Linked DNA regions of Homo sapiens. The protein of the gene in region 1 interacts with the protein of each later gene in a pairwise test. Each region holds a gene or a part of one and is shown on either strand. Other genes may lie near its edges. The genes, in order: TCEA2, PIH1D2, FXR1 and HSF2BP.

Region 1 (8,402 bases):
GGGCAGAACTGATGGGGGGTTTCTGGTGGAAGAACAGCTTGAGTAGAAGCCCCAGGGGAGAATGAGGAGGGGAGGCGGGCGCTGTGCAGTGGGGAGTGGGAGCCAGCAGAGCCTCCTGGGGGTCCCAGTGCCTGAGGTCCCCTCGGGGACCTGGGGGCCAGGTGTGGGGGTTTTTTTGCCTCTGGACCTGAGCCCACTGAGAGCCACGTAAGCAGGTGCAGGGCTTTCAGGGGACAGTGGCCTTGGCTCTGGCTATCACCTCAAGGCTGGACTCTGTACAGCCCAAGAGGCAGGGCCTGCCTGGGAGGGCTCAGGAGGGGCTGCAGCGTGAGCAGACTATGCCACCCGGATTGCTGGGGTTGTGCGGGCGGTAGGTGGGACAAGCCCCTCCCATGGCCTGTGGGTCGTGGGACTCTGATCAGGTCACCTTAGGGCAGAGGGAATGATACACACGTGGAAACACATGCACGTGTTACAGAGGAGATGGGGTGTTGCAGGGCACAGTTGCAGTTTTAAACAGGAGAGGCCTTGCTGAGAAGGTGTTGTTGAAATAAAGCCCGGGAGGGAGGGAGGGAGGGAGGGAGACGTTGTGGGAGGCCGCCCCAGGCGGTGGAGCTGCAGGTGCAGAGGGCCTCGGTGGCGGCTCAGCGCCCTTGGGGAGCACTGAGTTGCCGGGCCTGGTGTGGAAATGTGACCGGTTTGTGCCTGGCCTCGTCAGTGTTGAGGACCTGGAGGAAACGCAGATCTTGGGTGGGGAGACAAGGCGGAGAGAACGAGGTGCATTGGAACAGTCCAGGCGAGGGGTGCTGGCCTGCTTGGGGGCAACTCAGAGGCCTGGAGGATAGATGAGGAGGGGGGCTGTGGGCCTTGTAGGTGTTGGCTGTGGCCGTGCCTGGAGTGGAGGGACCCTTGAAAGTTTGGCCTCAGCTCGGGACACTGATGTTCCCGGGTTGGCCCTTCATGAGAGTTTGGCCTCAGCTCGGGACACTGATGTTCCTGGGTTGGCCCTTCACAGCTGGTGGGCGGGGGGTGCTTTGGGGAGAGGCTGCCCTGCGCATCAGGGCATCAAGACACAGGGGAGTGAATGAACCTGGGGCTGCAGTTTCACCTGGGTGTGGCCCTGGCTGCTGGGGAGGGGCCGTGGCTCTGAAGCCTCATGATTGGCCAGGGGAGCTGGCATTTCTGTTCTGGTTTGGGTCAGTGACCTGAGGTGGTTACAACGAAGTCAGTGAGGTCATTGCCACGGATGTGGGTTACAACTTGGAATGCTTGAGGCTGCAGAACCCCTCCCCTTCTTGACTGAGCAGTAAGGGTTCCCTGCTGTGGTGCAGGAACATGTGGGCAGAGCCCTGGGTGTCTCCAGGTAGAGGAATTTTGGTTTCTTTTTGACCCCAGGTTGAATCTCCAAATTGTCACTGCCTTGTGTTCTCCTCCAGTAGGCAGAAGGAGGTGATATTGTCTGTTGAGATCTAAAGTCCTTTATGAAGGTCCTCCTTCTCCTTCCAGGAGGGAGCCATGGATTTGCTGCGGGAGCTGAAGGCCATGCCTATCACGCTGCACCTGCTCCAGGTAGGTCCCTGCCTGCCCCAGGTCCAGGACAGCTCCTGGGTGCAGCCCAGGGGATGGCAGTTCTGAGGGCACCTGGCAGGGCTTCCCCACCCTCCCCACCAGGCCTTAGTTGGCACAAATGCCTGTTCCTGAGGAGAGGGTCTCTGCCTTTCTCTGGGCTCAGTGGGACAGGGAGGGGAGTCTGAGGATAACCCATCTTGTCCTCCGTGGCTGAGGCTCCTGGGTTCCAAATGGGACAGTCGCCATTGGGAGAGGCCTCTACCTCCCTGGGAGGTCCCGGGCTCCTGTCCTGTGGGGGCCACCAAGGCTCTGCCAGGAGAATCTGACCCCTAGGGTGGGCCCCTGCCTCCCCCAACCCAGACCACTTGCCTCGTAGTCCACCCGAGTCGGGATGTCTGTCAACGCCCTTCGGAAGCAGAGCTCGGATGAGGAGGTCATTGCACTGGCCAAGTCTCTCATCAAGTCCTGGAAGAAGCTCCTGGGTGCGGCTCAGGCGGTGCCCACTGAGTGCTGGGGCAGGGGTCCCAGAAGTGCTGCCTCTTGCTGGTCAGCACAGTGTAGAGTGCTGGCAGTGTCCACCCTGAGCCAGGTCGCTTGGGAGTGGGGCAGTGGCAAACCCAGACCATGAAGCGCCCAGCTTGGGGCTGGCAGTGGATCAGTGGGTGCCTGTCAGCATTGGCTGGGAGGTGTGGCCTAGGAGGCCAGGGTGTGTGCTGGGGGCAGGGTTCCAGGTAGAACAAGGAGAGAAGAGAGTTGAGGCCAGGACTTGAACTGACAGCACTGAGAGACTGGGGTGAGTTGGGAGGTCACACAGAGGGGAAGGTCATGGCCAGGAGGCTGGGAAGTGCCGGGAGAGGGGAAGCGGGAGGGAGAAGGCAGGGCCACCTCAGCTACTCAGAGGGAACAGAGGGGCAGCCCCCTGCCAGGGAAGGGAAGGGCTGGGCTGGGCTGGGCTGGACTGAAGGCTGCCTCTTCCTGGAGACAGTGGGGTGACTGGGGTTGCAAAGATGCTGCTGTCTGGGATGGAGGCAACCCTCCTAGCTCTGTCCACACCCTTGTGAAACAGTCTCTCTCCAGCCCTGTGTGGCCCTCAGGCTGTGCATGGCACAAGCATGTCCTGGTCCCCAGCCCTTGGGCCTGGCTCTGGGCTTTCAGGAAGAGCCTTCTTGGGGACATGCTTGGTCTCTCTGGCCAGGACAGGCAGGAGGGTGGGCCCCAGAGAGGCCCCAGAGGTGGCCTTTGTGAGTGGGTGCTTGTACGGGAAAGGGTTCTGGGGAGGCAGCCTCAGGACTGCAGAGATGGACAGGTTGCTGGGGAGGGTGAGGACCTGTTCACAGAGGCTGGGCAGCCTCCTGGCCCCTGGCTCCCCTGGCTGGGTGAGGGGCTGGGGGCGGGGGCTGGGGCTGGGGCCGTGTTGGTGGTCGGGCTGAGGCTGTACCTTGGTGGTGGTCTGTGCCCCTCCCTCCTCTGCCTCCCCTTGATCAGCCCATCCCCGATCTTTCCTGCAGATGCTTCCGATGCCAAAGCCAGGGAGCGGGGGAGGGGCATGCCTCTGCCCACGTCCTCGAGGGATGCCTCAGAGGCCCCGGATCCCAGGTAGCACACCTGGAAGGCAGGTGCACACACTTCTGCTTCCCAGCCTGTTTCCTTGCCAGAGAAAGGGTGCCAGTCTCCATGTGCCTAGGCACTGCTTTGAGGCTGCACACAGAGTCGGTCAGCCTCATGCTGGACACCAGCCTTGTGGTGTGTCCCGCCTGCACTGACCACTTGAGATGTGGGTCTGTGTCCACCTGGCTGTCAGCCAGCCATCCTGGCCTCTTCCTCTGCCAAGAGCTGCTGTATACCCTGAGTGGGCCTGTGGGAGCCCCCTGGCCTCTTCCCCCAAGGCCCCCTGCTGGGTCTGGTTCTTGCTGGCCCACTCTGGCTTCCCCCTCAGCCTCACTCAACGACGGTCCCTCCTTCCTGCAAAATTCTGCCCAGAACCAAAGGCGGGGGCCAACTCCCCTCCTGCCCTGCATGTGCACGTGTGGTCACTGCTGCCAGGGGGTGATAAGGGCTCTGTGGCCTGCAGCTGGGAGCTGGGGGTGCTTATTGTGGCAGGCTATAGCCGAGAGATGGCTTTGCCCTTGACCACACTGGGTTGTGGTGACTGGGCCACCAGGAGCTCAGGGACACCTTTGCAAGTTGATTTTCCTCCAGGAAGCTGCCTGCTTCTGCCAACTTCCACAGAGGGGATGAGGGGAGGGCTAGGTGGATGCAGCCTGGTCGTTGGGCAGCCCCATGTTGGGGTCCAGCCCTGAGGGGCATCCTTCTCCCATTCTGTACGTGCCCAGGGGTGTCGTCTGTGACAGCAGAACCTGGCCTTGGGCGGCCCCGCCTTGTCTCCCCCCAGACAGCTGTGGGTCTCTCCCTCTCCCTGACCAGGCAGCAGCTGCAGCTGCCCTCAGCAGAGTATTTGTGTTGCGGCCCAGTGGGTGGGCACCCCAGAGGTGGCAGGAACTGCCAGGTTCATTCTGATCGACTGGTAATGCTGCCCAGATGCTGACTGCTGGGTCTGGGATCCTGTTCCCACCTGGAGAGTACACCCTGACCCACTGGGGACCTCATGGCCCTCTCCCTCCTGGCTGCTGGGCACACCCCATGGACATCTGGGCTGGACTCAAGATAGGCAGGGCCACAGGCCACTGTTGGACTCTGGCAGAGTAGAACAAGCAGGGGTTGGTGGGGGATTATGCTGTGGCACCTGCTGCTTCTAGGACCAGTGTCTCGCTGGGGTGCCTGCAGCCTTGAGTCTGAACCCAGCTGGCCCTGGCTCTCTGCAGCCGCAAGAGGCCGGAGCTGCCCAGGGCACCGTCGACTCCGAGGATCACCACATTTCCTCCGGTGCCTGTCACCTGTGATGCCGTGCGCAACAAGTGCCGCGAGATGCTGACCGCTGCCCTGCAGACGGACCGTGAGTGCGGCCGGCCCTGGCTCCTGACACCCGCTGTGGTTCACAGGGTGGCCCGGGCCCCTGCCTGCCCGCAGAGGCCTGCTTCCAGCGGGGTGACTGTCCTCCCCCAGCCCATTGCTGTGGCCCTGGCAGGGGCTAGGGGCCTGTGCCTGGATCGTGGGCCTCTTGCAGGGACCCGGATGTGCCCTCTAAGCTGCCAGGGTGTTTTGCAGGCAGAAGGGGTGGCAGGTGGAGAAACCAGTGGGGGAAGCTAGTCAGGGCTCCCTCTTGCAGATGACCACGTGGCCATCGGTGCGGACTGCGAGCGCCTGTCGGCTCAGATCGAGGAATATATCCTTTGGGTAGGGGCTGTGGGCCTGGGTTTCTGGTGGAGTCAGGAGGCTGCCTGGCCTGGTGCCCTCTGGTGGCTGCTGGATGCCACTGCCCAGCTGTCCAGGGGTCACCTGCCTGGGTGGTCACCTGCCTGGGTGGTCAGGCTGTCTCACCTCAGGAGGGCCCCCGGACCAGCTGAAGGGCTGATTCTGTCTGCTTGTGGGGCCTAGGTCCCCTGGGGCTGTAGCCTGAAGCTGGGTCTCAGTCAGGAATGGGCCTGGGGCAGGCTTGGCCCTGCAGCCCTTCACCTCTCCACCAGGTGTGGGTGGGCAGACCGACCCCTGTGTGGCTGGGCAGAACCTTTCCAGCCCCCACCCCAACATGGCCCCCAGCGGGGCAGGTGGTAGGTGGAGGGCAGCGACGTTGTCCTCAGGTGGGTCCTTAAAACACTTGCACGCATCTTCCGGGACGTTGGAAACACAGACATGAAGTATAAGAACCGTGTACGGAGTCGTATCTCCAACCTGAAGGATGCCAAGAACCCTGACCTGCGGCGGAATGTGCTGTGTGGGGCCATAACACCCCAGCAGATCGCTGTGATGACCTCAGAGGTGAGCCCCTGTTGGAGGGGCTGGAGGGCTGCTCCCTCGGAGCGGTGGGCTAAGCCACTGGCCCCGTGCTCCAGGAGATGGCCAGTGATGAGCTGAAGGAGATCCGTAAGGCCATGACCAAGGAGGCCATCCGAGAGCACCAGATGGCCCGCACTGGCGGCACGCAGACAGACCTGTTCACCTGCGGCAAGTGCAGGAAAAAGAACTGCACCTACACACAGGTGAGCGGCCGCTGGGCACCCTCCCCCGGGCCCGGTGTCTTCAGGGCATCTGGTGCCCCTCCTTGGAGCCCATGCCTATTCCCGCCTCTGCTGCATGAATTTCCCGAGCCTCTCAGTCCCTGAGTAGGCTAAGGCATGATGGCCACCTTCAGGGACCACTCCCCTCTACCCAGGACCTCTGGGCTCCACGGGGCGGCGTCTTGGGTGGTGGGACCCACTTGTTGCGGATACTCAAGTCAGAGGGCCTGGCCTGGCCCAGCCCAGCCTGAACGGAGGGCCCTCGAGGTGTTGATGTTGGTGGGAGGGCCGTGCTGCCTGCTGCCTGGCAGTGACTGCAGGACCCTCAGTCCCTGCCATGGAGGTGGACACTGAGTGTGCTGGGGAGACTGTGGATCCCATGAGATGGCAGGGACCCTGTTAAGAGGGGAGTGCGGCTGGGTGCAGTGGCTCACATCTGTAATCCCAGCACTTTGGGAGGCCGAGGCAGGCGGATAATGAGGTCAGGAGTTCGAGACCAGCCTGACCAACATGGTGAAACCCCGTCTCTACTAAAAATACAAAAATTAGCTGGGCGTGGTGGCGCATGCCTGTAATCCCAGCTACTCAGGAGGCTGAGGCAGGAGAATCACTTGAACCCGGGAGACAGAGGTTGCAGTGAGTCCAGATCGTGCCACTGCTCTCCAGCCTGGGCGACAGAGCGAGACTCCGTCTTTAAAAAAAAAAAAAAGAGGGGAGTGTGTCGAGGCGGCCGCTGCACCTGGCAGATGGGACTCGTGAGGGGCTGCAAGGACAGCCTTTCCTTCCCCTCGAAGGCTGCATGGGGCCTGGGTCGGTGCAGAGCCTGCCTCTCTCCTGCTCCCAGCCACTGGTCAGAACAGGCTCTGCCTGTGGCCGGAGGCTCACCCTTGGGCCTTCCGGAAGGCAGCCGCGGGCACTGGGGACCCCTGCTAGTTCCCCCCACCATTGGGACCCTCTTGCCCTCAGCCAAGTCTGGGCCCTCCTGGTCCCCAGCCAATGTGAGCTGCTTCAGGCTCACACAAGGGCCTCTGCCCCGATAAACTCTGTCTCCCTCCCCCGGAGGCTCAGCTTTGGAAGGTTGGAGTCACGAGGCGGCCTCGGATCAGGTCACCTGTGGGAGCTCAGTGGCTGCGAGGCCCGCACTGCCCATGTTGAGGGGATGCCGTCTGCAGCGGAGCATGGAGGTGACCCTGGGTTCACCCAGCCCTGTTCACAGGTGCAGACCCGCAGCTCTGATGAGCCCATGACCACCTTTGTTGTCTGCAACGAGTGTGGAAACCGCTGGAAGGTGGGTGAGCAGGCTCAGGCTGCCCCTCCCAGCTCCATTCTCTGGAGGTGGGGTGTCTCAGCCTCTGTGGGGTCTGTGGTGTGAACTGGGGATGGCCCTGCCCAACCAGCCTCCTGGGAGTCTTGGGCATGGTGGGTGGAGAGCCCAGCCTTGGGTGAGCCTGTGCGGCCTTCCACTCTGGGGGATCTCATGTGGCCACAAGGCTGGAGGCCTCACCCCCTTTCTCGCAGTTCTGCTGACCCCTCGTGTAGATGTGCTGCAGCCTTGGGCCCTCCCCGGCCCACGTCCTCCGTTGACACAGCTTCTCTGGAGACCCTAGAAGGCGGCATGTCCTGCCCTCAACCTGCCTGCCTGGATTGCACCTTTCTGCCCTTTCCCCCTCATTATTAAATGTTTCTTTTTGCCATCTTGTTCTCCTCAGCCGTTACTCCTGGTGGGCCCCTGTCCCCCATGTTTGACCCGTTTCCACTGCTGTGGACAAGGCCCCTCCCTGGGGTTGGGCAGTGCTTGGGTTTGGCCCTGGTGGGTCAGCCCCAGGAGAGGAGCTTGGCTGACCTTCAGAGATCACCTGGGGCGGCTCTGCCTGTGAGGGCAGGTGGGGAGAGGGTCTTGTGTGCGTCCTGTGCAGGGCAGTGTCCTCCCCAACGCCTCAGGCATGGGCAGCTCGGGACCTCTCGGCACTTCAGGACAGCTTGTCCCCATGCTGCCTTCTCTGTTCTTGTGGGAGTTGTGGTCTCAGGGCCCTGAGCCAATTTCAGCTTCAACTCACTTAACTTCCCAGAAATGCAGGGGATGGGCTGGTGAGCACTCAACTCATGGGGCCTGTGAGATGAGAAAGATGACATTGGGCCTGGCACCAAGTGGCCCCTCCTGCCCCAGCCAGCCTGCCTCTGGGGACCCCGTCCGGCTGGGCCTGGGCGGCACCTCCTGTTGCCTCTCGACTTCTGAGGTGCTGTGGGTCACTGTTCTGGCCCGACTTTCAGCTAAGGAGGCTGAGGCCGAGGGCGTGGAGCTCATGCCCCGGGCAGGGTTAAGCACAGCCACCCACTGGGACCACTGTTCTGAGGAGGGGTCTGGTGGAGGCCAGGGCATGGGAAGAGGGCAAGCACACGGCTGTGTGTCCCCTCCAAGGGGCACTGGAGCCCCTGCCCTGGGACAAGGACACTTCTCCCCAGCCCTGAGTCTGGGGCCACTCATTCTCCAGTCTCTCCCCAGACTTGGACAAAAATGAGTAGAGACTTTGCTTTAAAAATATCTTCAATAATAAGACATCCTATTTTTGGGGGGTTAGGGATAGAGATAAATATGAAAACTTTTTTTTGATAAAACACCTAGTAAGGACATGTTTCCAGGTTTAAAGTTCATGAACATATAAAACAGAAATTGGGTCCTGCCACCTTGAGTGCAGGATTCTGAGGTCCTAAATCTGG
Region 2 (5,472 bases), on another chromosome or scaffold:
CGTCTCAAAAAAAAAAAAAGATATATTTTGTTTGCTGTTACTATGTCATTGTATCCAATCTATCGACAAGTCTATATATGATACTAAAATGTCTGGCTGGGTAGCTGGGTCTCCTGGCAGAGTTGTTTAACTGAAGTACAGAGGTTAGGGGCTGAGTGCCATGGCTCACGTCTGTAATCCCAGCACTTTGCGAGGCTGAGGCAGATGGATCACTTGAGGTCAGGAGTTCAAGACCAGCCTGGCCAACATGGTGAAACCCTTTCTCTACTAAAAATGCAAAAACTAGCCAGGCGTGGTGGCACATGCCTGTGATCCCAGCTACTAAGGAGGATGAGACGGGAGGATCGCTTGAACCTGGGAGGCGAAGGTTGCAGTGAGCCGAGATTGTGCCACTGCACTCCAGCCTGGGCAACACAGCGAGACTCAGTCTCAGTGAAGTACAGAGGTTAAATAGGCTTGAATATTATATTTGACCCTGTATTTTTATTGTTGGAGGAGACTCACTGATATGGCCCATCCTGATAATAAAAAACTTCTTGCACAGTCTGGAATTTCTTCCTGATAGAAAAATTTACTAGAGACTTTTTCAAGCAGTAAACCAAGAGTTCTCACTTGTTACTTGGAAACAATTAGAATTTTCCCAAATTATAAGTTACTTAAGATATTTTTAAAACAAGTGTGTCATAGCAATAGTTTTTAATTCTGGTTGATGTTTATTTGAGAAGAAGTGAGTTAAAAAATATAAGACATGGCCAGGCATGGTGTCTCATGCCTGTAATCCCAGCACTTTGGGAGGCCGAGGCAGGTGGATCACCTGAGGTCAGGAGTCCAAGACCAGCCTAGTCAACATGGTGAAACCCCGTCTCTACTAAAAATACAAAAAAATAGCTGGGCGTGGTGGTGCATGCCTGTAATCCCAGCTACTCGGGAGGCTGAGGCAGAATCGCTTGAGCCCATGAGGCGGAGGTTGCAGTGAGCTGAGATCGTGCCACTGCACTCCAGCCTGGGCAACAAGAGCGAAACTCCGTCTCAAAAAAAAAAAAAAAAAAAAAAAATATATATATATATATATATATATATATTTGACATAACAGGTGAAGAGAAAATCTCAGTCAAAATGAACTTAGAAAATAATGGAATTGGTGTTTAAGATAAACTACTACCTCTTTAGCCAAAATGAAGGTCCTTTAATTCACATGACTTTAGCACTGAAAACCCAAAACATATGATGCTCTTCTTTCACACCAAAGGCATTGTGATGATTAGCGTGGATTTTTCTTTGATAAATTTTGCTGTGGTCATTTCAGTATCAATAAGTTTTGGAAGATTCAGATGTAATCTGTACTTCTCAGATACTTCAATCAATAAATCATCCTAAGAATAATAAACCAAGAGATTTATTTCCTGCTTAAAATTTGGGATACTAACTTATTGTTCCCAGTTATTCACTCCTTTGCCATAAAAAGATCCCATTTGTTGCCATGTGACTTGGAATGAGCAAAAAATTACTGTTGTAAATCCCTTAGATTTTAAGGTGGTTACTGCTGCTCACTACATCACACGTTAACTGATACAGTACCACAGTAGAGTGTTGCCATCCTAAATTATGTGGCTGACCAGCAAACAGCAAGGAAACTTATTGGAGCCTGGAAAGGTAGTGATCCATGTTTCATAATGATGAAGCCTTTAGTGAAACTATCACAGTAATTTGGATGATAAATACTCTGTGCCTAGTTGATTTGTGGCTTTAGGTGAAGAAGTGGGAAAATAGATGGTAATGTGTTGGTTCTGTTCACTACATTTAACAGGATATTACAAGAAAGATGAGCTTAGAATGGACCATTTTGCAAGTCAAATTAAAAGGGAATTGGCTGAGTGCGGTGGCTCACACCTGTAATCCCAGCACTTTGGGAGGCTGAGGGCAGGTGGATCACTTGAGGCCAGGAGTTCGAGACCAACATGGGCAACATGGCAAAACCCCGTCTCTACTAAAAATACAAAAATTAGCCAGGCTTGGTGGCACATGCCTGTAATCCCAGCTACTCAGGAGGCTGAGGCAGGAGAATCGCTTTAACCTGGGAGGCAGAGGTTGCAGTAAGCTGAGATGGTGCCACTGCACTCCAGCCTGGGCAATAGAGTGAGACTGTCTCAAAATAAATAAATAAATAAAAAGGACTTTATAGAGCCCCAAGATTCCAAGACTCAATGACTGAAAAGTGGAACTAATTTTTATTTTCAGCAAGTAAGGGATAAAATTGAGAAATTACTTTTATCAACCAAGCTGATTAAGGCAATATAGAGGCAAAGATTAAATCTTTATGCTCTTTGTTAAAACCTCTGAATTTTTTTTGTTTTTTTTTTTTTTTGTTTTTTTTTTTTTGAGGGGAGACAGAGTCTCGCTCTGTTGCCCAGGCTGGAGTGCAGTGGCTCGATCTTGGCTCACTGCAACTTCCGCCTCCCGGGTTCAAGCAGTTCTCCTGCCTCAGCCTCCTGAATAGCTGGGACTACAGGTGCCCACCACCACGCCCGGCTGATGTTTTTTTTGTATTTTAGTAGAGATAGGGTTTCACCATGTTGCCCAGGCTGGTCTCGAACCCCTGAGCTCAGGCAATCCACCCCCCTTCGGCCTCCCAAAATCCTAGGATTACAGGCATGAGTCACCGTACCCAGCCAAAACCTCTGACTGTACTAAGGTGGACTTCAGTAAATCCTTACATTTGGCTAAAATGACAGCAATTAAGTCTAAAGAGACAGGTAAGTCTTGAAATATGGGCAATGTCTAAAAAGGAATTATGGGTATCACTGACTGGAATCAAAATGCTACCAGCCTGGACTAAAAGAAACTGCCTTCAAAATTTAAAACAATCCTTTGAGCCCCAAGATTCCATGAGCAGGAACCAGGCTGAAGAGGCTACTTAGCATATAAGAATGGCACATTCTCCGATACTCTTCAGATGTGGCCAAGGTGGATAGTGGGAAAGGGAAAAAAAAAGAAAACATCTTCCTGAAGACTGAAGCTAAAGGTCGTGGAAAAAAATGGAACTGGGGAGCTAGGTAATTACAGAACTTTCTCAAGGAACCTAAGTAAGAACATCCTCTACCTCCAGAAAAGGAGCCCTCACAATGTCTGCCTACTAGGATTTCAGAATTGCTGTGCACCAGTAACTGCAGTGTGCCTCTTATTTTTCCCATTTCTGAATTGAGATGGTTAATTACGGTTATCTTCTCCCCATTCCACATTGCATGACAGATGGGACTGAGGGAGTACATAACTTTTTTTACATGTCTTAGTCCATGGTTCAAGAGGAAGAGAAAGCAAAATTCTGTCCTTTGGAGTCTGATACTGGGATTGGAGGTGTTTTCCTTCCAGAAAGAAGCAAATATTTGCAACCAAGAGTGTAGACTGGTAGACTGTAGGACTGACTCTAACTATTTGCTCTTCTGTAAGAGGATAGTACGTTTACCCTGCCATATGACTTCCTGTGACTGTGAGAATACACTTCTCAGTCCTACTGATGTAGAACTGGCCTTGTGACTTACTTTGGCCAGTGGAGCGTGAGTAGAAGTGATATCATGAAGTGTCATGTCTGAGTAGAAGTATTACGATCCACTGCATGGTTTGATCATTCTATTTTCCCTTTGCTGAGATGTGAATGGCACATCTCAGAAGGGAATTGCTCCTTCACCGGGTAACCTGAGCAAATCATTGTAAGCCCCTGAAATTATGTAGTTTGTTACTGTGGCATAATATATGTTAGTGAATGCTGGCCAATACAAATTTACAGTGTTATCTATTCAACTTACCTCAGAAACACTAAGGTCACAGAGAGAGACAGAATTAATACCAGGTAATTCAACTTTCAACTCAATTTTCAGAGGTTTCTCACTGTGATCATGCACAATTTTTAGTTCATAGGCTGGCATCTTCATCTCCACCTGGATTTCAGTACTGGAAATCTCTTCTATCAGACACACTGCTTTGCCTGAAACTTGGTCTTTTGGCAGTAACAGTTGAGGAAAGTGATCTGGATTGCTCATAGTACTGCTTCGTATCTGTCCAAGAGTTAGTTCTTTATGAAAAAAAGGGTGGAGGGGAGATAAAAAATAAATCTACAACATAAAATACTATGAGCTATAATATATGTGGTGTTAGTAGAGATGGTAGATAAAGCTGCAGTTAAATTAGTTTGGGAATCAAGCCAAAAGAATCTTAAACCAAAGAATTTGATTGAAAATTTTTCAGGATTTAAAAATCAAGGATATGATATTTCTAATATTTAATATTTGCATTTTTCTATCTTAAGTTTTTCACCTTTTAAAATAGAGATTTCTAGTTTGCAAAATGTATACAGGATCCAAAAACATCTTAAAGCAGTTTAATTTTCCATTTACAATCATCAACTTACCCCTTCTCATTTTTTCTCTTAAATCTATGGAATCAGTTTGGATTCCCATCAGATTTTGTTTCATTCTTTGAATGCTTCCTTTTATTCTAAATTTGGTAATATGGTAAGAGTGTGAGAGGGTGAACTGGAATTTCTCCTCAATGCATTTCATGGCCATCTGAATTAACTGATTTTTTTTCACTTGGTCCTTTTCTGCTGCATGAAGAACATCAGGATTGTAGGCAACATCAATGACTGTGTAAGCATCTGTGTGTGTAATTGAAAGGGTATGAAATGAAGAAAAATTGTTGCACTAATGATACTGTCAGGCAATATATTAAACCATATTCCTGATAAAGCTAGAGAATATTCCTGTATTTTTCAGAGGTAATCACAGTAGTGCTACAGCAATTATGACATTTCTTGGCACTTTTGCATGGATTAAAACAGCTCACCTTATTACAAAAGTTAAACAGTATTAAATTTGCATAAAGATACACTAATTGTAATTATATTATCAACAAATAAAGAGTTTTACTTGAAATGCTCTCAACCAAGTAAGATCTTGTCCATTCCTAATAAAATTTTTACAATGTGCTTTCTCTCAATTATTTGTACCTGATATCTCAGTTGTATCTTCTGGTTTGCCAACAGTTAGAGGTACTGGATGAGTGGTTGATTGGGGAGCTGGGATCCTTGTCCACTGACACAGGTTGATAAAAAGTATTTTTTCTTTTGGTTTCTGGAAAGCAAATAATTTTGCACATCTCAAAACCTAGTTTAAAACCATTTAAGGCCAGGCATGGTGGCTCCCGCCTGTAATCCGAGCACTTTGGGGGTCCAAGGCGGCCGGATCACCTGAGGTCAGGAATTTGAGACCAGCCTGGCCAACATGGTGAAACTCCGTTTCTACTAAAAATACAAAAATTAGCCAGGTGTGGTGGTGGATACCTGTAATCCCAGCTACTCGGGAGGCTGAGGCAGGAGAATCGCTTGAACCCAGGAGGCGGAGGTTGCAGTGAGCCAAGATTGTGCCATTGCACTCCTGCCCGGGTGACGAGAGTGAAACTCCATCTCAAAAAAAACA
Region 3 (8,752 bases), on another chromosome or scaffold:
GGGTGATCATCGTTATCTAGGCAACTTTAAAGTTCTCAAGAAGGATGCCTGAGGGTCTGTAATCCCAACCCACTCAGGAGACTGAGCGGGGAAGATCACTTGAGCCTAGTAGTTCGAGGCCAGCCAGCCTGGGCAACATAGGGAGACAGATCAACAGACCGGTCTCCTGAAACAACAATTTCTCTATTTGCAAAATAAAGGAGGTGAAGATTCTTAAACTGGGGTACTCCCTGACACTCAAAGATGTGCTAGGAGTACTTAAAGCTACTCCCTCCCCACAACTACCATGGTAAATCTTCCTGGAGCTTTTATGATAAGTAAAGTAATTTAAAAGATTCATAATAAAGTTTCTGGACTGTCTACATAGTTAACAGATTATATAAAGGGCTCCTTATCAGGGCAAGGAAAAAAAAAAGCCTCACTAAATGAAGGCACTACAATACAGTGGTTTCACTGTAAGGTCTCAGATCCCACTACTTACTGTGTATAACAAGAGAGGATCCAAGACAGTAATGTAAGGAAAATAAGATCCCTAACTGGCCTTATTTGCCAAAAAGCAAATCACAATGTTCCCTTCTCGAGATCTCTGTATGGTATTCCCAGGACACCCCAGACTCTTTGGAGTAATTCTCAGGAGGGTCTATCAATCTGGAATGGGATCCAGCCCTCCAGGATGCTGAGCATCAACCTCTCATCCCAATCCTAGAAGTGAGGGAGATACAGCTAAGGAGAGACACACATGCAAGAAAAACAACTTTCAAACAGAGATGATTAATACATGGCACTAGCATAACTGCCTATACATACAAATATGCAAAAATATTAACGTACTATTTAAATGTAAAAATAAAACTCCAAAGTAACCTAAGAAATTGTATGTATAATCTGGGCACAGACTGTCTTAACCAGGACTGGAAACCCAGAAGCCTTAATGGAAAAAAAAAATTATGTTAAAAACTAAAATCTCACTATGACCAGCAATATAAGAAAAGAAGTTAAAAGGATGGGGAGGCAGGGCACAGTGTGGCTCACACCTGTAATCCCAGCACTTTGGGAGGCCGAGGCAGGAAGATCACTTGAGTCCAGGAGTTGGAGGCCAGCCTGGGCAACATAACAAGACCTATCTCTACAGAAAATTTTTTTAAATTAGCTGGGCATGGTGGCACATGTCTGTAGTCTCAGATACTCCAGAGGCTGAGGCAGGAGGATCGCTTGAACCTGGAAGGTCAAGACTGCAATGAGCCATGATCCTATCACTGCACTGCAACCTGGGTGACACAGTATTATTTATTTTGAGATCCTATCTCAAAATTAATAACCTAAATAAATAGGTGGGAGAGTGGACACTCTTACATCAGGTCAGAGGCTTAATATCCATAATACAGAAAGATTTTCAAAACTGACAAAGGACACCCCAACAAAAAAATGGGCAAAAGACAGGCAATTCTTAGAAAAACAAAATCAAATGGCAAACAAAGGCAAGTCTTAAAAGAACAAGTTCAAATGGCAAACAACATTAAAATTCACAACTGGGATCAAGTTCCAATGAGATATCCCTTTACATCCAACAGACTGGCAAAAATTAAAGATCATAAAGCCAACTTCTGGCCCAGATAAAAAGAAAAAGCTGCCATTTATTATTGATGGAGAACACAGGAAGCATCAGAAGCCTTTTTGGAAAGCAATCTTTCAACATTTATTACAGTTTTTTGTTTTTTTAAAGGTTCCCTTTCACCAAGCTATCCCATTCTTTGATATCTATCCAATGGAAATAGTTATGTGGAGCGACAAAAAACTGAAAACAAAGTGTATGTCTATTAACTGGGGAATGGCTGAATTTAATACATTGTTATGATTATATAACCTTAAAAAATAAATCATACTCCACATGAAAATAGTTAAGATGTGGATGATCCTATTTTTATACAGTAATACTGAAAAACCCTATACTTGTAACTGAATGCGTACCTATATACAATTCTACGAGCATAGTGAAATATATGGAACCACGTATATGTGCTACAAACAAAGGTTACCTAATATGGAGGCGGAGGTGAGAGACCCAGGTGGTGAAGAGCAACCAGGGGAAAAAAAAATACAACAGACTAAGTTTTTATATCATACTTACGTGTGTGTAAAATTATACACGTGTCTATGTAAACGTATACTTTTAAGAATTAGAATATATCTTATTGTCAGCCAACACGTTTTCCATACAGCACGTATGTGCATCACCACTCCCCACTTCTAATTTTTCCATCTCTAGGGATCTCAAATTTATAAGATATAAACTTATAAGATGCTTACCACAACTAAAAGATCTAAGTTGTAATTTGATTCCAACAAGTACCAAATAGTCAAGGCTGCTACTGCAATCAAAAAAATGTCTTAACTTCAAACAATATACTTTTTAAAAAGATCTACGCAACTAAATCTACAAAGTAAAATTATTCCAAATCACTAGATACTTGTTCCACAAATTCAAAAAGTCTGCAAATTTACCAATTACATTATACATTACAATAATTATTACAAGTTTTTTTTTTTTTTTTTAGATGGAGTTTCTGTTGCCCAGGCTGGAGTGCAGTGGCGTGATCTTGGCTCACTGCAACCTCCACACACACCCCCACCCTGGGTTCAAGGGATTCTCCTGCCTCAGCCTCCAGAATAGCTGGGATTACAGGCACCAGCCACCATGCCCTGCTAATTTTTGTGTTTTTAGTGGAGATGGTTTCACCATGTTGGCCGGGCTGGTCTCGAACTCCTGCCCTCAAGTGATCCACCCGCCTCAGCCTCCCAAAGTGCTGGGATTACAGTCAAGAGCCAGCACGCCCAGCCAATTATGGAGTAAGCTCTAATAAGAAAAAAAAATTATTCAAGGCAAGCATTCAGCATTCATTAGTATTGAGCATGTAACTGTTCTGAGTTTGAAAAAAGAAAAAGGACAATGAGGATGTGAAGATTTCTTTAAGAATACACAAGTGTCTACTACTACTGTTTACATACCAGTAATGTTCTTGGCTTGTTAGGTTCACCCATTTGTATGTATTATCTAACAGTTCTCTTTGAAATGGAATAAGTTAACAGTTCCAAATGGCCACCCAAAACTATTCTGGGCCGGGCATGGTGGCTCACACCTGTAATCCTAGCACTTTGGGAGGCTGAGGCAGGCAGATCACCTGAGATCAGGAGCTCAAGGTCAGCCTAGTCAACACGGCAAATCGCCATCTCTACTAAAAATACAAAATTAGCCGGGCGTGGTGGTGCATGGCTGTAATCTCAGCTACAATAATTACTGAGGCACAAGAATCGCCTGAACCTAAGAGGCAGAGGTTGCAGTGAGCCAAGATTGTGCCACTGCACTCCAACCTGGGCAACAGAGCTAGACTCAAAAAAAAAAAAAAAAAAGAACAAAACTATTCTGACTTTCTCGTTGCAGAGTTTAAGTTCTATACAGTTCCCTCTATGCATGCATAAAGTTTTGTGACAATATCTGAACTTGACCAAGATCAAAACATAACTTCTTTAAAAAAATCATTTAAATTCAGTTTGAACCAAAATCAGAAATGATGAAGTTAGCAGTTACTAAGATTACACATCATTCAACAAATATACACTGAGGGCTTACTATGAACTAAGTACATATATCAACAAAATTTAAGACTTGAAAATAACCTGAAAAACTGTAAAAACAAAAAGGTTACATGAAAAGGGAACCAAAAACAGCTACCTATGATTAATTATGTAGATTAAGAAAGGAATTCAGGAGCCTCTGAGGCTCCTGATCTGAAGAAATCTCAACACGGGAGCGCATCCCTTTGCCAACAATAATAAACTTCATCAGCTATTTTACTAATGGAGACCTCTGTTCATCTTCCCAAAATAGACAGCAAAAAACGCTGAAGATAGAGAATGGCAGGCAAGTTAAATACACTGATAGCATAAATTATCTTGATTAAAAGAAGGAGGTAGTGGCTCATGCCTGTAATCCCAGCACTTTGGGAGGCTGAGGCAGGAAGATCATAAGGTCAGCAGTTTGGGACCAGCCTGGCCAATATGGTGAAACCCCATCTCTAATACAAAAATCAGCCGGGCGTGGTGGCTGGCACCTTTAGTCCCAGCTATTCAGGAGGCTGAGACGGGAGAATTGCTTGAACCCGGGAGGCAGAGGTTGCAGTGAGCTGAGATTGCGCCACTGCACTCCAGTCTGGGCAACAGAGCAAGACTCCATCTCAAAATAAAACAAAATGCATGAAAAGAAATAGATAATATTAATTTCAATATTATTTAACCTAATATACCTAAAATATTATCCAACATGTAATCAATGTAAAAAATTATTGGCCCGGCGCAGTGGCTCACGCCTGTAATCCCAGCACTTTGGGAGGCTGAGCCAGGTGGAACATTTGAGGTTAGGAGTTCGAAACCAGCCGGCCAACATGGTGAAACCCTGTCTCTACTAAAAATACAAAAATTGCCTGGGCGTGGAGGCACACAGCTATAATCCCAGCTACTCGGGTGGCTCAGGCATGAGAATCACGTGAACCCAGGAGGCGGAAGTTGCAATGACCCGAGATAGTGCCACTGCACTCCAGCCTGGGCAACAGAGCAAGACTCTGGCTCAAAAAAAAAAAAAACAAAAATAAAAAAAAAATAAAATTTAGGTGTTTCACATTTTTTTTTAATTCTAAGGCTTTGAAACCCAATTTGTATTTTACATTTAAAGCATGTCTCAATTCAGACTAGTACATTTCAGCTCCATGGCTGGTGGCTACTATATTAGAAAGCAGATTTGTCTAAAGCAAAGGCATAGCTCAAATCATTTCTCTGGGAACCTCCCAATTTATTCCTCATAATTCTCCTCATATTAGTAACAATTCAAAATTAGTAATAATGTGGCAAAACATTTGTACTTCAAAAAATATTGCACCATAATGGTTAAAGAAATTGGTTCTGTGGTGTCAAACTTTAGAGTCTGAATCTTGAATCAGCATCTAACTTTACAGACCTGGATTCACTTAGCCTCAGTATTCTCAAATAGTGGAGTTATCTACTTCACTGTGGTTGAAAGGATTAAATGGGAAATTCGAGTAAGGCACCTACAAAGTCTGGTAAGTAGTCTGGGTACTCAATGAAAATTAGTTACAGTTGCTAGAGGTAGATGGGACTGCCATCAACAGAAACTAGCAAAGATTTCACAACTTATAAATAGGTTAAAGGAAATACAACTGCTTCATACTGCATATGAAAAAACCAAGGTGTTTACCTGGATGATCCTGCCAGTTAAAAACTATTACAAGAATTAGGGGTCAATCATGGAATGAATGCATATTGCTCTTCCCACTACAAAAAAGCTAATTTGACAACCTTAAACACTGTGATAGAGAACTTATCCAGAGTGATAATCCAGCAAAGTATCTGCCCTTTTCCTCCTAATGAAAATGTAAGCTCACTATCCTAAAAGTTACTTTGAAAAATCCCTAATGCTGGCCAGACTCAGTGGTTCATGCCTGTAATCCCAGCACTCTGGGAGGCCCAGATGGGAGTATTGCTTGAGACCAGGAGTTTGAGACCAGCCTGATCTAAATAGCAAGACCCCATCTCTACTAAAAAATAAAAATTAAAAAAATAAAACCAACCTCACAGAGTTCTTGGGAAAAGAAAATCAGGAAATACATATAGAAGCTTAATACATAATCTAGTAAAGAACAGGCTCTCATCTTAAACTATTATCTTACAGAAGGCACACAAATATCTGACATAGAAAATAACAGGTACATAAAAGTAAAAATACGGAAAAATAATGTTTTCTGGAAGTATTTAAAGCCAGGGCCTTGACAGTATCTCTCTAGATAGGTAAGATGTGCTTTTCTGCTTTCATATTTTTCGTAATTATGTGTTGCTCTTCTAATACAAAACACAAAACTTTACAAGAAATATATGCATTTAAATTGACTTTTTTTTTTTTTTTTTTTTTTGGAGACAGAGTCTCACTCTGTCACCCAGGCTGGAGTGCAATGGCATGATCTCGGCTCACTGCAACCTCTGCCTCCCCGGTTCAAGCGATTCTCCCACCTCAGCTTCCCAAGTAGCTGGGACTACAGGCGCGTGCCACCACACCTGGCTAATTTTTGTATTTTTAGTAGAGACGGGGTTTCTCTATGTTGGCCAGGCTGGTCTCGAACTCCTGACCTCGTGATCCACGCACCTCAGCCCCACAAAGTGCTGGGATTACAGGCATGAGCCACGGCGCCCGGCCTAAGTTGACTTTTTAATAACTGTGATCACCATCAGCAAGATAGAGTAGAAAATCCCAGCCTTCCTTCCCCTCCACGTTTTGCAACTATCTGTGAATGAAAATAAAAGCTGTTGTGATCATTTATTTTGACATCCAGTTAAATCTTCATTACTTAGCATTTTAATGAAAATTATCTTTTTAAATATGCAAAACAACCATTTTAAATTATCTGGAACTATGTATTTTTAAATTAACAGGGTGGCCTAATATTAAGACAATTATCGTTTTTTCAATTACAAATCTCCACAATGAAACCAACTAACAAGATTCTGTACTAACCTTGAAAAGTCAGCATACCCTCTGAACGCAACTTTTTACTATAATTCTATTGGTCATCATTATTAATATATCTATGCATAATTTAGATTACGCTCAAATTCCACTTAATATTAAATCAAGCTAAACAGGGAATTATAGAAATATAGTACTTTGAGATTTGTTTTGTAGACAGTTACACGGTGGAAGCAGACAGCTCTAAAAGTAATTAACTCTGGCCAGGCGCGGTGGCTCACGCCTGTATTCCCAGCACCTTGGGACGCCGAGGCGGACAGATGGAGGCCATCCTGGAGATCGAGAACATCCTGGCCAACATGGTGAAACTCCGTCTCTACTAAAAATACAAAAAATTAGCTGGGCGTGGTGGTGCGTCCCTGAAATACCAGCTACTCAGGAGGCTGAGGCAGGAGAATCGCTTGAACCACTGAGTCAGAGGTTGCAGCCAGCCAAGATTGCACCACTGCACTCCAGCCTGGTGACAGAGCAAGACTCCGTCTCAAGAAAACAAAAAAATGTAACTCTACCTTCTGCAGAAAGTGACTGAAATCTCAGAGCTTACAGGTTCCCTTCGAACATCATGGAAACTTTCCTATGAGCCAGAAACTGAGTGACTTACTTCCAACTTCTATTTAAAATTATACTCATGGTCGGGCGTGGTGGCTCACACCTGTAATCCCAGCACTTTGGGAGGCCGAGGAGGGCGATCATTTGACGTCAGGAGTTCGAGGCCAGCCTGGCCTACACAGTAAAACCCCGTCTCTACTAAAAATACAAAAATTAGCCGGCCATGTTAGCACATGCCTGTTGTCCCAGCTACCTGGGAGGCTGAGGCAGGAGAATCACTTGAACCTGGGAGGTGGAGGTTGCAGTGAGCCGAGATCGCACCACTGCGCTCCCACCACTGTGCTCCCACCCGGGCAAAAGAGCAAGATTCTGTCTCAAAAAATAAAAATAAAATGAAATTATACTCAGCCCAAGGCCATACAAATTGCAATGCTATTACAAAGACTAATATATATTTATACATCAGTTAAAAAGCACTTTAATGATGCAAATGAGCCGGAGGTTTCTGTGGGGTAATGGAACGTTCTGAAGGAAGACTGTGGCGGTGGTTACACAACTCTGTAAATACACTGTCATTCAACTGTACACTTAAAAAAGGTTGTTTTATAGAATATACATTCTACCTCATTAAAACTTTCTTTTTCAAGACACCTTAAATGTCCAGTAGTATAAAACCTAAGATGCTACTTTAGGTATGAGAAGTACAAAAGTACAAAGCCTATAATGTTATTTTATATAACAGCATAGCCCACCAACAAATGCTTAATTAACATCTTCCCATTCTCTCTCATCCCCGCAGATTTATAGGGCTACGAACATGCACAAATCAAGTTTCTAATATCTCTAACTATAGAGCCACTGTTAAATGCAGAACAATGTATTTAGCATGCCACCATTTGTGTACATACTATTTTTTAAAGGCTACCCTAATTTTAGGTAAAATATTCAGATCTTCAGCGTTTCACTGGTTCCAATTAATTTGTGAAATGAAGTTTCAGTTCTACTACAAAAACTTTAATCAAAGTCTACAGAGTACTGCCTCAAGGCATGATAACTGACTTTGAAACTCATCAATGGCAATTCACACTTACGGCCAAATGTGTGTCTTCTGCCTATACGGGGTAAGAGGAGGGGAAAAAAGGGAAATTCAGATCACCTGTACATTGAAAAACCACCAAAAAAAACCAAAGAAATACACTAAAATGTTAACAGCTCTCATCTCAAGGCAACTTCTAGTTTTTGCTGAGTTCCAAAATTACCTCAGTGACCATGTATTATCTTCTAAATTGGAAAAAAACTAATTAAAATTAAATTGCTTCTACGCTAAATGGAAGCCGGACTCAAAACACTACACAATATAGTGTACGATTCTATATACGTAACGTTCTGAATAAGAAAAACTATGGGGACAGAAAACACTCTAGAAGCTGGGGTTGAGGAATGGTTGACTGAAAAGGGCATGACGGAAATTTGGGGGCTATGAATCTTGATAAATGCTGACACCACCACAGTTAAAGTGACAGTTAATCTTGATAATTGTCAGCATTTATCAAGATTCATAACCGTACACCAAAAAAGGCTTATTTTACTGTATGTAAATTAACATTAACTTTT
Region 4 (8,752 bases), on another chromosome or scaffold:
CTTACAGTCCTTGTGATGATATTTGGGAGAGTCTGATGACCTAAGAAAGGGAGGTTTCCTCAGTGTAGTGACTTGGACATATGTAAGTTGGTATAAGTTGGTTGCCAGTTTTCTGAGCATCTATTAACAGCTTCTCTTTCTCTCTCTCTTCATTGGCAGAAGAATTTTATACTTTTGATAACTGAAAAGCTCTATTCTGAAAATTAAGTACTTACTGTGTAAGTTAAGGATCTTGCCAAATGGAAACCTTGCATGGAGTTTACTTGTCAGTAGAGATAGCTGGAAGTGTGTTCACTTATCTTTAGGTGGATGGGTGAGCCAGTATCTAGAACTGATTGAAGTTTAGGCTTTCTGGTGTCCATTCAGACTTTTGAGATTTGAGCTGAGCTGTTATGTTGAATACCAGTTTAGGAGCCTATTGAAGTTCCTGGACATACTCTGAGATTGTCTCAGCACTTGCTTGATTGAGGCCAAATCATGATTAAATCAGCCTTTGACGGTAAAGGCCAATTTACTGCATGACATTTGGTTGTTATCCCTCCCTGTGTGCCCTCTAGAAAAGGTGCATCCAGGGGGCCCAGGTAGCTGTAGCACTTGTCCAGACAAGAAGATAGCTCACCCCGAGAATATGAGTTTCTGGCATGTGCAAACGTATCTGGTCAGTGGGCCAGCCACATCCAGTTAGAAGGGACAGTTCTCATCCACCGTACCTTGTCCTGTTTATATTCTCTCCGAAGTCCTTGGATCCAGTCTTCTCTGCCCTGTGGTGTGCTCTGGGAGGTAGATCCCTACAGATGGGGCTCTCCTGGTTCCCTTGCTGGCTGCCAGTGGGGCTCACCAATGGAAGGCATTGCTGGGTGGAGAGAGAGGTTGGGGTGTTTCTTCCTGCTCCCTCCCTGCTTTGCTGCTGTTTTGTGGCAGTAGCTGCATCCCTCCACAACAGAGACTCCTGTCTAGAGGCCTCTTCCGTAGTCCTAGCTCTTGCTGGACTGCCCCTGCTCCTGTGGCTGTAGGGCTGTTGCTAGTCCCTGGGTACCTCGCTGTCCCTTGGTGGTTCTGTTATCTCTGCTCTCCCCTCTGTAAGTGGTCCCTTCAGAAAAGTCTCAACATCTGGGTTGATTTCTCTTTCCCACTGGGACTCTGCCAGATACATGGCGTGTCATTGGTTGCCAGAATGCCAGGTCATTGACTTCTAATTTCTCTAGTTTTGATTTCATGCTCATCCAGCAACTTTCTGAGATTAGTCATTCCTTGTGCATTTATCTTCAGGAAAGGAAGGTAAATAGGCATACACCAGTAGCAGCGTATGGCAGCCTGCTGGTTGGTTATATTCTCACTGTAAATTAATAAACTGGCATTCTAAAAAATACATCAGGGTCTCATGAGTTAGTTAACATGAGTGTCTTTAGTGATCAGTCCCGCTGCCAAAATCAAACCGAGTGAGGGCCACAAACAAATCTGTGGTCACTTGATCACAGTCTGCCTTTGGGAGATCTTATCTCATAGTCCCGGCCTTTCCCAGGCTATAGAGTCACCTTTTTCCCCATAGTCTCTCTGGCAATTCCTGCTTATTCCCCTTTGCTGAAATTTATCCTTCTCTGCTTTGCAGCCTTCCAATAGGGCTTGAGACTCAGGCCTAGGCCCCGCTCATTGCCTCACCCCATGGCTTCTCCCTAGGCAGTCTCATGCACACTCACAGCTTCAGTTACCGTCTTGATGCCAGTGGCTGCTGGATTTACTCTCTAGCCCAGAACTCTCCAAGCTCACGGCCTTGTGCCTGACTCCGACTTGGCATTTCTTCCTGCTTGTTTCATGATTATTTCAAATTCTAAATGTCTGCCCTAGCCTAATCAGTCTAAGGTCGCCAGGAACAGACCCACAGTCTGACAGAGTGAGGTTTATGGCTCTTTGCAGTGAGGAAGACCATACCAGAACACCGAGAAACTGTGGGGCATGTCAACAAAAAAGAGGATAGAGTTGTTGTAGGACTTGGAGACAGAGTGGTATTAGGTGAAGCATAAATGAAGCAAAATAGAACTGTGTCTAAAGGGACCAATATTAAGTCTGACTGCGAAGCGGACCCAGGTCCCGTTTCCTTGAAAACTACAACGTTCAAATAGACGTGGAACATTGTTCTAGAAATCCCTTACTTGAAGCTCTGCAGTAGCTGGAAATAGGGTTCTTTTCTGTGTCACAGTGACTTAGATCCTGCAGGCAAGAGTGGGATCTTCTTACTTGTATAATTTCAAAGAACAAAATTTGTGCGAGTCTGGGATTTTACAGAATAAGGCTTCTCAGTGAATAAGAAGTTAGCAGTCACTCAAAGAAGAGGTCATTATGACACTTTACAGTTGCATTGTCTTTGAGAGATATTTTCTGTTAACTTGGCACCTGACTTTATCTGTGTTTGTTATTCCAGCCTGACAGAAGTCAGGACAGACTTTTGCTTTCTCGGTGCAAGCTGATTTTTACTTCCTGTTGTCATATCTGCCTCATGCTATCTGTTCCCTGCCCCTGTCTTACACTGGCCTGCCTCAGTCTCCCCAGAGCACCAACACCCAGACTAGAGACCCAGGAGTCTTCCTTGTTACCTGTCTCTCTTCCTCACTACTCCGCATGAAACCTGTCCGCTAGTAAGTCTTGTGAGTGTTACTTCATGGATGCATCCTGAATCATCAGCCTGCGTCTGTCTCCACTGCTGTGTTCTGCCTCCTCCTGGCGGTCTCCTCACTGCCACTCTCCAGTCCCTCAGACACACTGTAGCCTGAGTAGTTTGTGGCAGTTCAATCTGATGATGCCATTCACCTGCGTAAGTCTTCAGACGCTTCTCTTTGTTTTTAGGATAAAGAGCAAAAACCTAAAAACCCCACCCAGACTCATTATCATCCAAAAACCTAAGCAAAACCATACTACGGCTTAAAAGGCTTTATATTATTGGGCACAGCCCCGGCTCAGAGTCACTGCCTAATCTGACTACCTCGACATGATCAATCTTCCTTTGAAATGTTGTCATGGTACCCTATGCTTCCTTCAGACACATGGTTTTATTTCCATTTTACTTTATAAGCTGTTGGGAGTGCAGGGCCCCTGATTTTATCTGTCATTATCTCGGCCCCTGATTTTGTCTGTCATTATCTCCCTGGCTGATTATTCGGTCTTGAGGGAGCACCCTACTGTCTCTGCATGCCCTTCTTTCTTTCTCTCTCTCTCTTCCTTCCTTCTCCCTTCCCTTCCCTCCCCTCCCCTCCCCTTCCCTTCCCCTTCCCTTCCCTTCCCCTTCCCTTCCCTTCCCCTTCCCTTCCTTTCCCTTTTCTCTCTCTCTCTCTCTCTGTGTCTCTCTTTCTCTCTTTCTTCCGAGTCTCACTCTGTTGCCCAGGCTTGAGTGCAGTGGCATGATCTCAGCTCACTGCAACCCTGCAACCTCTGCCCCCTGGGTTCAAGCGATTCTCTTGCCTCAGTCTCCCGAGTAGCTGGGATTACAGGTGTGTGCCACCACGCCAGCTAATTTTTGTATTTTTAGTTAGAGACCAGGTTTCACCACGTTGGCCAGACTAGTCTTGAACTCCTGACCTCAGGTGATCTGCCCGCCTCGGCCTCCCAAAGCACTGGATTACAGTTATGAGCCACTGCGCCTGGCCTGATGCCCTTCTTTCTAGTTTGCAGTCCTATCTCATGAAACTCACATGTGCTCCAGGAAACGTGGTGTTAACAGAAAGGAAGGATCAGATTGGGCTGGGCTGGTTCCAGGAGGTTTACTGTGGCCTCCTAAGGCATCTTTTATCTAATTTTGGCTTTTGAGTTTTTACCATTTAGCCAACATCAAGAAAAATAAAAATTCTTCTTTTTATAAGGCCTAGATCTGATGGCCCTCCCCAAGCCTTCCCACGAGCCTGTCTTCCTAGACTAATCATGCTAGACATGACTCTAAGAATAGAGCTCTACAGAGGAAATTCACGATTGTACTGTGGCAGCAAGAGCCGTTTGACATACTGATTCTTCTACTCTCCCACTAGCCCTATTGTCCAGTATCCACTCCTTTTGCTTCTAGAGGTTAATGTGCACTTCCAGTTGTTTTTTTTTTTTTTTTTTTTGATGGTGTCTGGCTCTGTCTCCCAGGCTGGAGTGCAGTGGTGTGATCTCAGCTCACTGCAACCTCTGCCTCCCGGGTTCAAGCTATTCTCCTGCCTCAGCCTCCAGAGTAGCTGGGAATACAGGCGCCTGCCATCACGCCTGGCTAATTTTTGTATTTTTAGTAGAGGCAGGATTTCACCATATTGGCCACGCTGGTCTCGATCTCCTGACCTCAAGTGATCTGCCCGCCTTGGCCTCCCAAAGTGCTGGAATTACAGGCATGAGTCACCATGTGCTTCCAATCTTAAGCAGTGACTAAAGGCAACCTGAAGGTAGGAATGAATACAGGCAGGGAAGGAGTAGACCTGATTTGAGAAGTTTCTTTTAGAGTGTGGATATAGTTTTGTTTGGATGGGCTTGGGCTATACAGTAACTTGTAAGCCAGCTAGAGGATTGAGGTGACACATCAAGTAGCGAATGGGGCTTGATTTTGACTCTAGCCCAGCATCTCCCTTTGGGAGGACTGGGCAAGGTAAATGGCAGTTTGCAATAATACTGACGAAGGTGTTGCCTGAGAGTCTTAGGGAGTTGATGGGTACTGGGGAGAGGCATGATTTGTTAGGAGGAGAAGGGGAGATATTCTAGGCCAGGGCGGTGGCATGTGAAAGTCACACATGGGATTGAGCAGGACCGATTGCAGGTTCATCAGCTAGTGTTTGATTGCTGTATGGAATAAGGATTGGGGGTATAGCAGAATTAGGGATGGAAAATGAACAGTTTATGGAAGACAATCATAGATTGTTTTTAATTTGAGATGAGAGTCAACTGGAAATTACCACATGGAAATAACCATCAAAATAGTGATCAAAATGACGTTTTTTAGGAGAATGGTTTTTATAGGTGAGTGTAGGATAGGTTTGAAGAATTGGGTGGAAGATGAATTAGAGCATTCATCAAGGAAGGTCGTGAGTTCCATTAGTGTGTGGGACTGTGGCTGTATGGATGGAATGGAAGGGACGTTTGATTAGTCTTGGTGGTTAAGTCAGGACAAAGTGTCATGATTTATGATCGGCAGTGAGAGTATGGAGATACAGGATCATCTATATACTGCCTGCTGATTAGTGTCTACAAAATGTGGACAGTAATGCTTACCTCATAGGCTATGGCAAAGCTTAAAATGAGATAAGCTCTGTAAGGTGTGTGCCACTGTGACTGGCTCATAGGAGTCCCTGGTAAATAACACCTCCTCAGATGGTGTGGGAAACTATGTGAACCCTTGGGGAAATGAAGAGAGACTCCAATTCACAGCCCAGCAGCTTAGCTTCTGGCTCGGCCATTGTCACTTCATGAGTTTGGGAAAAGTTTAGGGAGGTTCGAGTAAGACTCAGCTATGTTTGCAAGAGATGTAAACCGGGCCGGGTGCGGTGGCTCACGCCTGTAATCCCAACACTTTGGGAAGCCAAGGCTGGCAGATCACTTGAGGTCAGGAGTTCGAGACCAGACTGGCCGACAAGGTGAAACCCCATCTCTACTAAAAATACAAAAATTAGCCGGGTGTGATGGCATGTACCTGTAATCCTGGCTACTCAGGAGGCTGAGACAGGAGAATCGCTTGAACCCAGGAAGCAGAGGTTGCAGTGAGCTCAGATCATGCCACTGCACTCCAAACTGGGTGACAAAGTGAGACTCCATCTCAAAAAAAAAAAAAAAAAAAAAAAGCAAGCCTGAAAACACTATAGGAACCTCCATTTGACTTGTTAAGGTAGTGGCACTTAAGTACTTAGTAAGATATCACCCTCTGTTTTCTTTCATCCCTTCTTGTGCTTTATTCATCCAACAGTGGTGAATAAATCAGTGGGTATCAAAAATTTGTTTAAAACTAGGAAAATCCTATTTTTTATAAATAAAATTTTATGGGCCGGGCACGGTGGCTCATGCCTGTAATCCCAGCACTTTGGGAGGCCGAAGTGGGCGGATCACGAGGTCAGGAGATCGAGACCATCCTGGCTAACATGGCGAAACCCTGTATCTACTAAAAATACAAAAATTAGCCGGGCATGGTGGCGGGCGCCTGTAGTCCCAGCTACTCGGGAGGCTGAGGCAGGAGAATGGTGTGAACCCCAGAGGCGGAGCTTGCAGTGAGCCGAGATCGCACCACTGCACTCCAGCCCGGGCGACAGAGCGAGACTCTGTCTCAAAAAAAAAATTATATAATAGTATATGATGGTTCTAGATGTAAAATAGATGAAAACTGTATCTTCTGGGTATTTGTTTTTAAAATTAAGTTTTAGAACATTGACTTATAAAATCAGTAAGTACAATGAAGGTGGTGCGATGAAAACACAAATTTAGTATCAGGGATTTTGGAAGGTACTTGGATGATCACTTTCAGCATCCAGTTTGTTTTTAGTTTTGCTTGTGAAGTCGCAAGAAGACACAATCCCACAGATAAGGAGTTGCAGATGGTGGTTTTGAAGTAGTTCACCTAGCAACATGAAGACACTTTCTAATTAAACTGATATGAAGCTTGAAATAAGAGGAGTCAGATATTTTTGTTTTACAATTAAATCGCTAAGATCGAGCAATTCTTTGCTTTCCTTGATTGGCAATTGTTCATTTTGGAGAGAAATAATAAAAAAGCCATTCAGTCTGTTTAAATCTTCATTGTCTTACAGAAAACACTTTTCATGCATTATGCTGCATTTGACAATTTGGCACCTTAGTGGCAGTCAGATATTCACTGACAGTCTCAGAGGAGCTGGAATTATTTTTGTATGTTGACAGCACACCTAAAATGTTGGCCTCATTTCTGAAATAATTAAAATGTTAAATAATTTTAACCTTTTAAAATTTGTTTATATGTTTTTTGATGTTAATGTGAACCAGCCTTGTTTTGGTCATTGAAAATATCAGCAGTGAATGCGAACTAGTGTAGCCATGATACGCTGGTGAGATATTTGACCAACAGATTTTTCTTTCTTTTTTTTTGAGATGGAGTCTCCCTCTGTCACCCAGGCTGGAGTACAGTGGCATCATCTTGACTCACTGCAACCCCAGCCTTCCTGGTTCATGCCATTCTCCTGCCTCAGTCTCCCGAATAGCTGGGACTACAGGTGCGCGCCATCATGCCCGGCTCATTTTTGTATTTAAAAATTTTTTTTCAAAAAAATAAAAAAAACCCCAAACTGAAAAACAAACAAAAGGCCAGGCGCGGTCAGCACACCTGTAATCCCAACTACTTGGGAGGCTGAGGCAGGAGAGTCGCTTGAGCCCAGGAGGCAGAAGTGACAATGAGTTGAGATCATGCCACTGCACTCCAGCCTGGGCAACAGAGGGAAACTCCATCTCAAAAAAATTTTTTTAATTAAATAAATGAATGATGAGCAAATGAGGCAAACAAAATGTTAATAGTAGGTAAGTCTGGGTAAAGAGAGATAACAGGAATTTTTTTTGGCATTAGTTTTTGTGAATTTGAAATTACTTCCAAATAAAAATTGTAAATAACATTGTAAAATGGAGATATTAATTGAATGTTTATGGGACTGTAGTTGTTCCCCAGGTACTCTTAGATTCTTAGCAGTAGGATTTGAAAACCACTGCGCTATGTGATTTCTAAAGTGTAGGATATTTTGAGATTAATTTCCTGAGAGTTTGATACGGGGTACCCCCATTTCAGTTCTGGGAAGAATTATTTGTAGTCTGTAGAAATAAGAACTTGAGAAATATCCATGAAGAGTAGAACCAAAGAGTCAGCACCAAAAAAGGATTATTACTTTGACTCGGAGTTTATTGTGGCCCAGATAAAAGAACATGAAGAGTGTGTCACATCCATATCCTGGCAGGGAACAAAAGGAGTAAACGGAGTAAAGTGAAGAGATTAAAGTGTGATCAGGGTTGGGGGAACCAGTGCCTGGAGAAAGAAGCATCCGGGAACTAACGAGTGGAGCGCCATTGCCTCCCCTGGGCTGAAGGAGCAGAAGGGAGAGAGGTACCAGACGTGGCGAGAGGCGTTGCTCCAGACAAGATGCTTGACAGCACCTGGGACCTCACCCAGGAGGATGAAGCCCAGCAGGGAGGATGGAGTGGGGAGACATGTCCCATCCTTGGTCATCTTCTCTAGTCCTCCAGTTTCCTGCGGGGCTGCTATTGCATCCAACAGGAAGCCATAGGACGAGGGAGCCTTGTTACTGTGGGTCTTCACATCTGCCTCTTGGGGCACAGATCAGGGTGGAGATTGTCCAGAACATAGGAAAGTAGAGGGAAAAAAAACACTTGGGGAGCTTATGGACAGAGAAGGTGGCAAGGTGGTCAAGATGGAGGCGGAAGAGGTGTGTGGTGTTTTAATATCACCCGTGACCGCTCTGCTGTTCATGTCATATATGTGTGTCAGTGAATGAAAAGCAAAATTCCCTGACTCTGGTTTGGGAAATCAACAGAATTAATTTGAGTTCAGCAAGATTGATTTTAGTTTTTTTTTTTTTTTTTTTTTTTTGAGATGAAGTCTTGCTCTGTCGCCCAGGCTGGAGCGCACTGGCGTGATCTTGGCTCACTGCAACTTCCGCCTCCCAGGTTCAAGCAGTCCTCATACCTCAGCCTCCCGAGTAGCTGGGACTATGGGCGTGTACCACCACGCTGGGCTAATTTTTGTATTTTTAGTAGAGATGGGGTTTTGCCATGTTGT

Evidence for each region.
Region 2: the proteins of TCEA2 (region 1) and PIH1D2 interact in binary tests that used the Homo sapiens proteins (3 or more experiments, as listed by UniProt).
Region 3: the proteins of TCEA2 (region 1) and FXR1 interact in binary tests that used the Homo sapiens proteins (3 or more experiments, as listed by UniProt).
Region 4: the proteins of TCEA2 (region 1) and HSF2BP interact in binary tests that used the Homo sapiens proteins (3 or more experiments, as listed by UniProt).

The regions. Positions count from the first base shown.
Region 1 is NC_000020.11:64,064,970-64,073,371, forward strand, and holds the end of TCEA2 (transcription elongation factor A protein 2), read left to right. Parts: intron 1-1,277; exon of another isoform or gene 1,278-1,363; intron 1,364-1,436; exon of another isoform or gene 1,437-1,506; coding exon 1,507-1,569; intron 1,570-1,945; coding exon 1,946-2,051; intron 2,052-3,077; coding exon 3,078-3,165; intron 3,166-4,391; coding exon 4,392-4,522; intron 4,523-4,795; coding exon 4,796-4,852; intron 4,853-5,290; coding exon 5,291-5,445; intron 5,446-5,519; coding exon 5,520-5,666; intron 5,667-6,900; coding exon 6,901-6,972; coding exon of another isoform or gene 6,973-7,056; exon of another isoform or gene 7,057-7,202; coding exon 7,203-7,211; 3' UTR 7,212-7,378; downstream 7,379-8,402. UniProt on the Homo sapiens protein: Necessary for efficient RNA polymerase II transcription elongation past template-encoded arresting sites.
Region 2 is NC_000011.10:112,066,632-112,072,103, forward strand, and holds the end of PIH1D2 (PIH1 domain-containing protein 2), read right to left. Parts: intron 5,128-5,472; coding exon 5,004-5,127; intron 4,653-5,003; coding exon 4,407-4,652; intron 4,071-4,406; coding exon 3,805-4,070; coding exon of another isoform or gene 3,796-3,804; intron 1,375-3,795; coding exon 1,240-1,374; 3' UTR 1,167-1,239; downstream 1-1,166.
Region 3 is NC_000003.12:180,915,174-180,923,925, reverse strand, and holds part of FXR1 (RNA-binding protein FXR1), read right to left. Parts: intron 1-8,752. UniProt on the Homo sapiens protein: mRNA-binding protein that acts as a regulator of mRNAs translation and/or stability, and which is required for various processes, such as neurogenesis, muscle development and spermatogenesis.
Region 4 is NC_000021.9:43,647,740-43,656,491, reverse strand, and holds part of HSF2BP (heat shock factor 2-binding protein), read left to right. Parts: intron 1-8,752. UniProt on the Homo sapiens protein: Meiotic recombination factor component of recombination bridges involved in meiotic double-strand break repair.